Linked DNA regions of Homo sapiens. The protein of the gene in region 1 interacts with the protein of each later gene in a pairwise test. Each region holds a gene or a part of one and is shown on either strand. Other genes may lie near its edges.

Region 1 (3,500 bases):
AGGAAGGGCAAAGCCAGGTTCTGTCACCACCCTTCCACTCTCGGGGGACACTAGGGGGGGAACTCCTCTTGCATTTGGCATTAGGGCTGTAGCTGTTTTTTTTAAGTAGATAAATAAAAAGACTGCTAATACTACTATATCCACTTTGAAATGCCCCAAAGTAAAAATACAAGCATCTGAAAATTTTACCAACGATCTCCATAGGAAGCCTAAAGCCTCATTCAAAACCATTTTGAGGGAACAGTGCTTCTTATAAGAATGACTTATACCAGCTTTAAGTTTTGACAGTCCAAAACCTTCTTTCTATCCCATGAAAGTTTGGCAAAGAGGCTTACCATATCTTCTCACCCTGAAAAGGAGTCCAGATCCACATTTGTTAAGCAAAAGTAAAATGAAAGGATAGAGGCTGATATCGACTTGATTCAAGCAAAACTTTTCCTCAAACTATAATTGTGTGATCTTTAAGAAACAATATATCCACTTGCCAGAGACATTGTGGAAATCAATCTTGCATGTGGATGAAGTCAGTAGTCCTTAACCCTGGCTGGCCACGAGAATCACTTGGGGAGCTTTTTAAAATACCAAGGCCAGAGCTCTAACTCTGACCAATTAAATTAGAATTCCCATGGATGGGGTCCTAGCACCAATTGTTGTTTTTCACATTTTCCAGGCAATTATAATGGGCAGTCTTCTGGACAAATATTTGTCCCCCCTCACCCCAAATTCACATGTTGAGGCCCTAACACCCAGTGTGAGGTGGAGCCTTTGGAAGGCAATTAGGGTTAGATGAGGTCATGAGGATGGGGCTTCCATGATGTAGGATTAGTGTCCTTATGAGAAGAGATTGGAACTCTCATATTCTTTCTCTTTCATTCTCTCAACAGAAACGTATTTTCTCACAGTCCTGGAGGCTGGAGTCAGAGATCAGGGTGCCAGCCTGGCTGGGTTCTGGTGGGGGCCCTCTTCCAGGCTTGCTCATGACTGCCTTCTCTCACTGTGTCTCTCCCGTTGTTTGAGCCACAAAATCTGTGGTATTTTATTATCACAACCTGAGCTGCCTAGACAGGATGTTAAGACTAGATGATCCGGGGATCTCTTTTGGCTCCAATATTGCACAATTTGATGTAATATTTGATAATTTCTGTCTAATTTTGTAAAATTTCATGCTAGCAATGGAACTAAAGAAGTCTTTGTTTTAGAATATCCTTCTGAGAGTTAGGAATGTAGATCCAGGCTCCTTGGCTGTTTAGCATCTCAGGCTGCATTGTGATAAGGAAGCAGACAGAAGAACTGGTATCAAAGCCAAGTGTTTATCCAAATTCTACATTAAGAATATAACGTTTTCAGTGAAGGTAAGATTTCTAAAGAGAATTTCCATAACATAAGCTGAAAACATTTTCTTCCTCTTCTGACACTTGTTAAAAGCTAAGGACAACAAAATCCATCTCTTCTTTCTATGACCACTGTGACTAATGCAGTCTAGACATTTAATTACACTTGGATTCATGCAATAAATACCTAATTGGTCTTCCAATATTTAGGCTTCCCCACCCTCAATCATCCTCTGTTCAGCTGCCTAAGTAATCTTTGTATTAACAGAATGGGTATGTCACTATGACACTCCTTTCCTTAAAATCCTATAGTGCTTGCACAACAACGTGAATATAACTAACACTATTGAACTGGGCACTTACAAACAGTTAAGATAACAATTTTTTTTTTTTAACTGCAATTCAGACAAACACACACACACACACACACACACACACACACACACCAACAGAACAGTTCCAAAATGGCAGGGGCTGGCAGATCCTTCAGTGTCTCGCCATTATTTCTGGACTGAAATTGAATTTTCTTAATAGGACCAAAGGTTCTCCATAGTGTGGCTGCTGACTCTTACTCTTCTCACTCCATCACTCTCTCACATGCACACTATCGTCTAACTATAAGCAACCACTTGCAGTCAATAGTCCTTTTTGTCTCTAGGTTTTTGTAGATGTGAAAAAAGAGTACATGTGAAAAGTAAGAAAAAGAAAGCCAACAACTGAAATCTTCCAGGATAACACCAAAAAAAGTGTTCCAACCTTGGCTTGGCTACATGGAACACAGAAGGCATCTACCATGGTACCAAGGCATGAAACAGATGAGCCAGGACTCCCCAGCCCTTCAATCAGCAGGTGGGCTGCAGCCACACAAAGGCTCACCACCTGAGGAACGACGTCTTGGCTGCAGGGTAACTTACTGAGTGTGGATGAGCACGTGCTGCTTGAGGTCCTGCCTCCGCATAAACAACTTGTCACAGTAATCACACTTAAGATTCTTCTCCCCAGTGTGGATAACCATGTGGGACTCCAGGTGAGCCTTCTGGGTGAAAGACTTGTCACACAAGGTACACCTGTAGTTCTTCTGACCTGCAATCAGCCCAAAGTATTACACCGTGAAGAAAACAACTGCTGGCATCCCCAAGACACACAGGCACACATATGTGCATGCAGCAGAGGCAGGAATGAAACAGAGCTGACTGGTAAGCAGCATTTTACTTTCTAGGGTTGTCTATGTGAGACCACTCAAGAGCTCCTGAGTTTATATTCTGCAACTAAAGCTAGTAAATTAATTTGATCTCCTTTAGGACCTCTGACCTAAATATGTATTTTTAAAAAATGTATAGGTGATACATAAAACTTGAAAAAAATGACTTATAATCCTAATGCCCTAACACAAACATAAAGAAAAAAAAAAAAAACTCATGAATTCTAGGACGTGTCTATAGGGAAACATACTTTTACAAGATAGATTTTATAGTTTTCTATCTTTTTAAAACATATAATATTGCCTCAAAACCAGGGATGAAACAAAATCCTTCCAAGAATGCAAAAATAAGATTCCTCTAAGGGGTCAGCAAACCTTCTCTTAAAGGATAGATAGAATTTTAGGCTTTGTGGGCCATAAGGTCTCTGTTGCAAAAGGATGGGGAAGAAACTTTTGAAGATCTGGAGAAAAGATGACCCCAACAAGAAAGCTAAAGCCATCAGTTATTTTGTAGTATTTATTAAAAAAAGTTAGTGGCCAGGCATGGTGGCTCAGGCCTATAATCCTAGCATTTTGGGAGGCTGAGGTAAGCAGACTGTTTGAGCCCAGGAGTTCAAGACCAGCCTTGGCAACATGGCAAAACCCCATCTATATTAAAAATACAAAAATTAGTCAGGTGTGGTGGCGCATGTCTGCAGTCCATGCTACTCAGGAGGCTGAGGTGGGAGGATCACCTGAGTCCTGGAGGCAGAAGTAGTAGTGAACCAAGATGGTGTCACTGTACTCCAGCCTGGGCAACAGAGTGAGGCCCTATCTCAAAAAAAAATTTTTTTTTTTCTTAAAAAGTACTAAAAGAAAGGTGTTGGTTTGCATGGGATTTAGAAAATGGAAGCTCAAAAAATAAACTGTGGCAATATTTATTGAGCAATAATATTAAAGGAGAGAAACTGGCTCTGGCTGGTGACTGG
Region 2 (3,500 bases), on another chromosome or scaffold:
CCTAGTAGTGTATCAAAGGAGCATATCAACAATTATTTTTAAAGGCTTTTAAAAACTATTCTCCCTTTTCCAACCAAATACCTGTGTGAGGCTGTATTGTCTTCTTATACTTCCAATGAAACATCTTAACTCCATAGACTGAAGGCAGAAACAGCTATGAAAATCCAGTTGACTTCTAAGACGGCAAAAATGCGGCCAGGTGCGGTGGCTCATGCCTGTAATCCCAGCACTTTGCGAGGCCGAGGTGGGTGGATCATGAGGTCAGGAGTTCAAGATCAGCCTGGCCAACATGGTGAAACCCCGTCTCTATTAGAAACTACAAAAATTAGCCGGGCATGGTGGCACACACCTGTGGTTCCGGCTACTAGGGAGGCTGAGGCAGAAGAATCGCTTGAACCCGGGAGGTGGAGGTCCAGCCTGGGCGACAGGGCGAGACTCCGAAAAAAAAAAAAACAGATGGCAAAAATGCTGTTCTTCCCATTATATATTTTTTATTTCAAATAATTATTTTCATTACAAAATGTCACTTAGGTTAACATGTGATAGATTTTCTAAACGAATAATTTTACATTTCTCAAGTTTTTCAGGTGAAATTATACATTTTTAAATGTGAAAAATAAAATAACATCTTAGCATTATTTACTGTAAAAATATAGTAAATAACAATAGATAAAAATCCACATAAAGCTCTGTAGAGTCACCAATAATTTTTAAGAGTGTAAAGGAATTGTGAGACCAAATACTTGAGTACTGCTGATTTAAATAAAATATCATACATCCACGCAAGTGACTACTATGCAACTATTAAAAAGTTTAAAAAAAAAAGCTTAACTGTGTGGTAAAGTTTTCCTAAAATTGATATGAAACCCAGAAACCACTGAGGAAAAGCAGTATTTGCCTACATGAAAATTAAAGACCTCTAAAAAAAAAAAAACCATACAATTCCACAGACAATGTTAGAAGACAAATGATATGGATAACCTGTTTCTTTCTGACTTAATACTCCTCCAACTTCCCTGCCTTGGGTGAGTTAGCACTCTAATATAAAATGCTTGGAAATAAACTTGAAAAGATATTCCATAACTTGTTAGCTTGAAAGTAGGGGAAAAAAAAGATAATCCAAAAGAAAAAAAATAGAAGAACTGAATAATCTGTCCTCAGATAAAAACCACAAATCATCAATATGAAAATATTTTGAAACTTCAATTTTAAAATGCAAATTGAAAATACTGAAATTGTTTTCCCAAATCAGACTGGGACCAATCTGATTGGCAACAACTTAAAAGACTAATCACATGAGTTAGCAAGGATATAGAAACCAGGAACTCTCAAACTGTTAAGTCTAAGCCAATAAAACAGAATAATGTGGCAGTATCTGCGCAAAGGTTGTTAAAGGGTAATCTTTGTTCTAGGAGATCTGAAATTTTACCCTATATATTCACACAAGTGCACAATTATGTAAGGATGTAAATTACAGCACTGTGTGTAAAAAGAAAAATCTATACAGCCATTAATGTAAACCTAATAAAATATATGGTGGTATATCAATATAATGCAAGACGGTGGTTTAAAACAATGAGGTAAAATATGCACATACAAACAGAAAAGTCAACTGTATAGACGTATGTATTAAAAAGTATACATATGTGCATTTAATACTTCTGGAATACAAACCAAATTTAACATTGACTACTCTGGGGAGTGAAGAAAGTAAAATGCAAGAAGTAAATAATGAGAAAACTGCCAAAATTGGAGCCATAAAACATAGTATTTTTCCAAATGATACTTGCTATTTTACACAAAAAGTAGAATTTATAGAGAAACTGAAGTCCCCAGAGACTTCATTTTAAGATTTAAACTTTTTTTTTTTTTTTAAACTGATGAGGACACTTAAGAATCCCTTCTTAGACTCCATTCAAGCTGTGAGGGATATATGCCTTGTTTACTTCTCCCCACAATAAAAGTGACACCAAGAACTAGGTTCACAGACAGCTAGAAGATATACAGTTTGTTTCATATCACTGAAAAAAATGAAAAAAAAATGTGGGTTTTGGTGCTACTATTAGGTTAAACTATATAAGACTGCCTCTAACGAATTGTTCAACCTAATACATGTGGTACATTGCTTCCCTGAGGAAGGATTTTATCCTTTATAGACTGTTTGACCTCTGATGTCCCACTAGCTGAGAATCTCCATTGTCTAAAAAACTGATTTGTTCCTCACTGGAGGATATACTGAACCAAAGGGTCTCCTATGAGAAAACTGCATACAGCATATTTGAACTATTTATTTCAGTAGGTCTTCCATGATGAATAAAGGAAACATTTAAAAAAATTGAGATCATAAAAAAATTTTAATAAATGAAACAATTATAAATAGACTTGTGGACTCTTTTAAGTAGAGAGTGAATGGTCTGCCCTAAAAAAAGTAAATAAAAACAAAAAAAGACAAGAAATGAACTGAAATACTTCAAGAACCTCAGAAGTTAATTCCAATTTACTTTCCTCTAGATTGTTACAATGTTTCTGAACTGCCATTTTCTTCCCACCATCAGCATTCAGTGAACTCAAGTTAATTCTCATATACCCCAGAAAATAAATAAAAACAAACCTACTGGAAAGGAGTGGGAAGAGTTGGGAAAAGCCATATAATGAACTAATACTCAATTTCCTGTTACACTATTAACTATGAAAACTTAACTAATTTTAATCTGTCCCCTTTTCTAGTCTCTCACTTACAAACCAACCAACCTTCAAACTCCACATTCCCTGGCTCTCGTTTCTCATTCTCAGTCCAACTTCAAGTCACCTGTTCTTACTCTATACATCTGTATATCTCCTATTCACTCTTCAAACTGCCCTAATCTCTTTTTCCATGTTTTATGGAACTACTCTATGGAACCTTACTAAAAAACTTTTTCCCAAGTCAGCACGGACTTTTTTAAAAGTGTTCAATCCAATGGATATTTTGACATCTTGCTTCATTTGACCTTTTTAGCACATGTGCTGTAAACCACCCTATCTTAGAATAAACCACCTTCTTGGTTTCCATGACCACCACTGTCTCTTTTTTTTTTTTTTGAGATGGAGTTTCGCTCTTGTTGCCCAGGCTGGCAGGCAATGGCGCGATCTCAGTTCACTGCAACCTGCACCTCCTGGGTTCAAGCAATTATCTCACCTCAGCCTCCCGAGCAGCTGGGATTACAGGCGTCTGCCACCATACCCAGCTAATTTTTGTATTTTTTAGTAGAGACGGGGTTTCACCATGTTGGCCAGGTTGGTCTCAAACTCCTGACCTCAGGTGATCCGCCCGCCTCCGCCTCCGCCTCCGCCTCCTGAAGTGCTGGGTTTACAGGCGTGAGCCACCGCGTTGGGCGACCACCACTGTCTTTGTATGTCCATCCTTCATAGGCATTCTTCTTCAACAAAAGCCTCCTATATGATGCTAGTATCCCCGGTCTTTGTCCTGAGTCAAGTTCACTTCTCCTTAAGGGAACTTA

What was found. Proteins that work in one complex are often made in the same cells at the same time.
Region 2: the proteins of PRDM4 (region 1) and EIF4E interact in a two-hybrid assay, tested with the Homo sapiens proteins (one large-scale study listed by BioGRID and IntAct).

What each region holds. Positions count from the first base shown.
Region 1 is NC_000012.12:107,737,138-107,740,637, forward strand, and holds part of PRDM4 (PR domain zinc finger protein 4), read right to left. Parts: intron 2,528-3,500; exon of another isoform or gene 2,415-2,527; coding exon 2,246-2,414; exon of another isoform or gene 1,990-2,245; intron 1,353-1,989; exon of another isoform or gene 885-1,352; intron 1-884. UniProt on the Homo sapiens protein: May function as a transcription factor involved in cell differentiation.
Region 2 is NC_000004.12:98,898,134-98,901,633, forward strand, and holds part of EIF4E (eukaryotic translation initiation factor 4E), read right to left. Parts: intron 1-3,500. UniProt on the Homo sapiens protein: Acts in the cytoplasm to initiate and regulate protein synthesis and is required in the nucleus for export of a subset of mRNAs from the nucleus to the cytoplasm which promotes processes such as RNA capping, processing and splicing.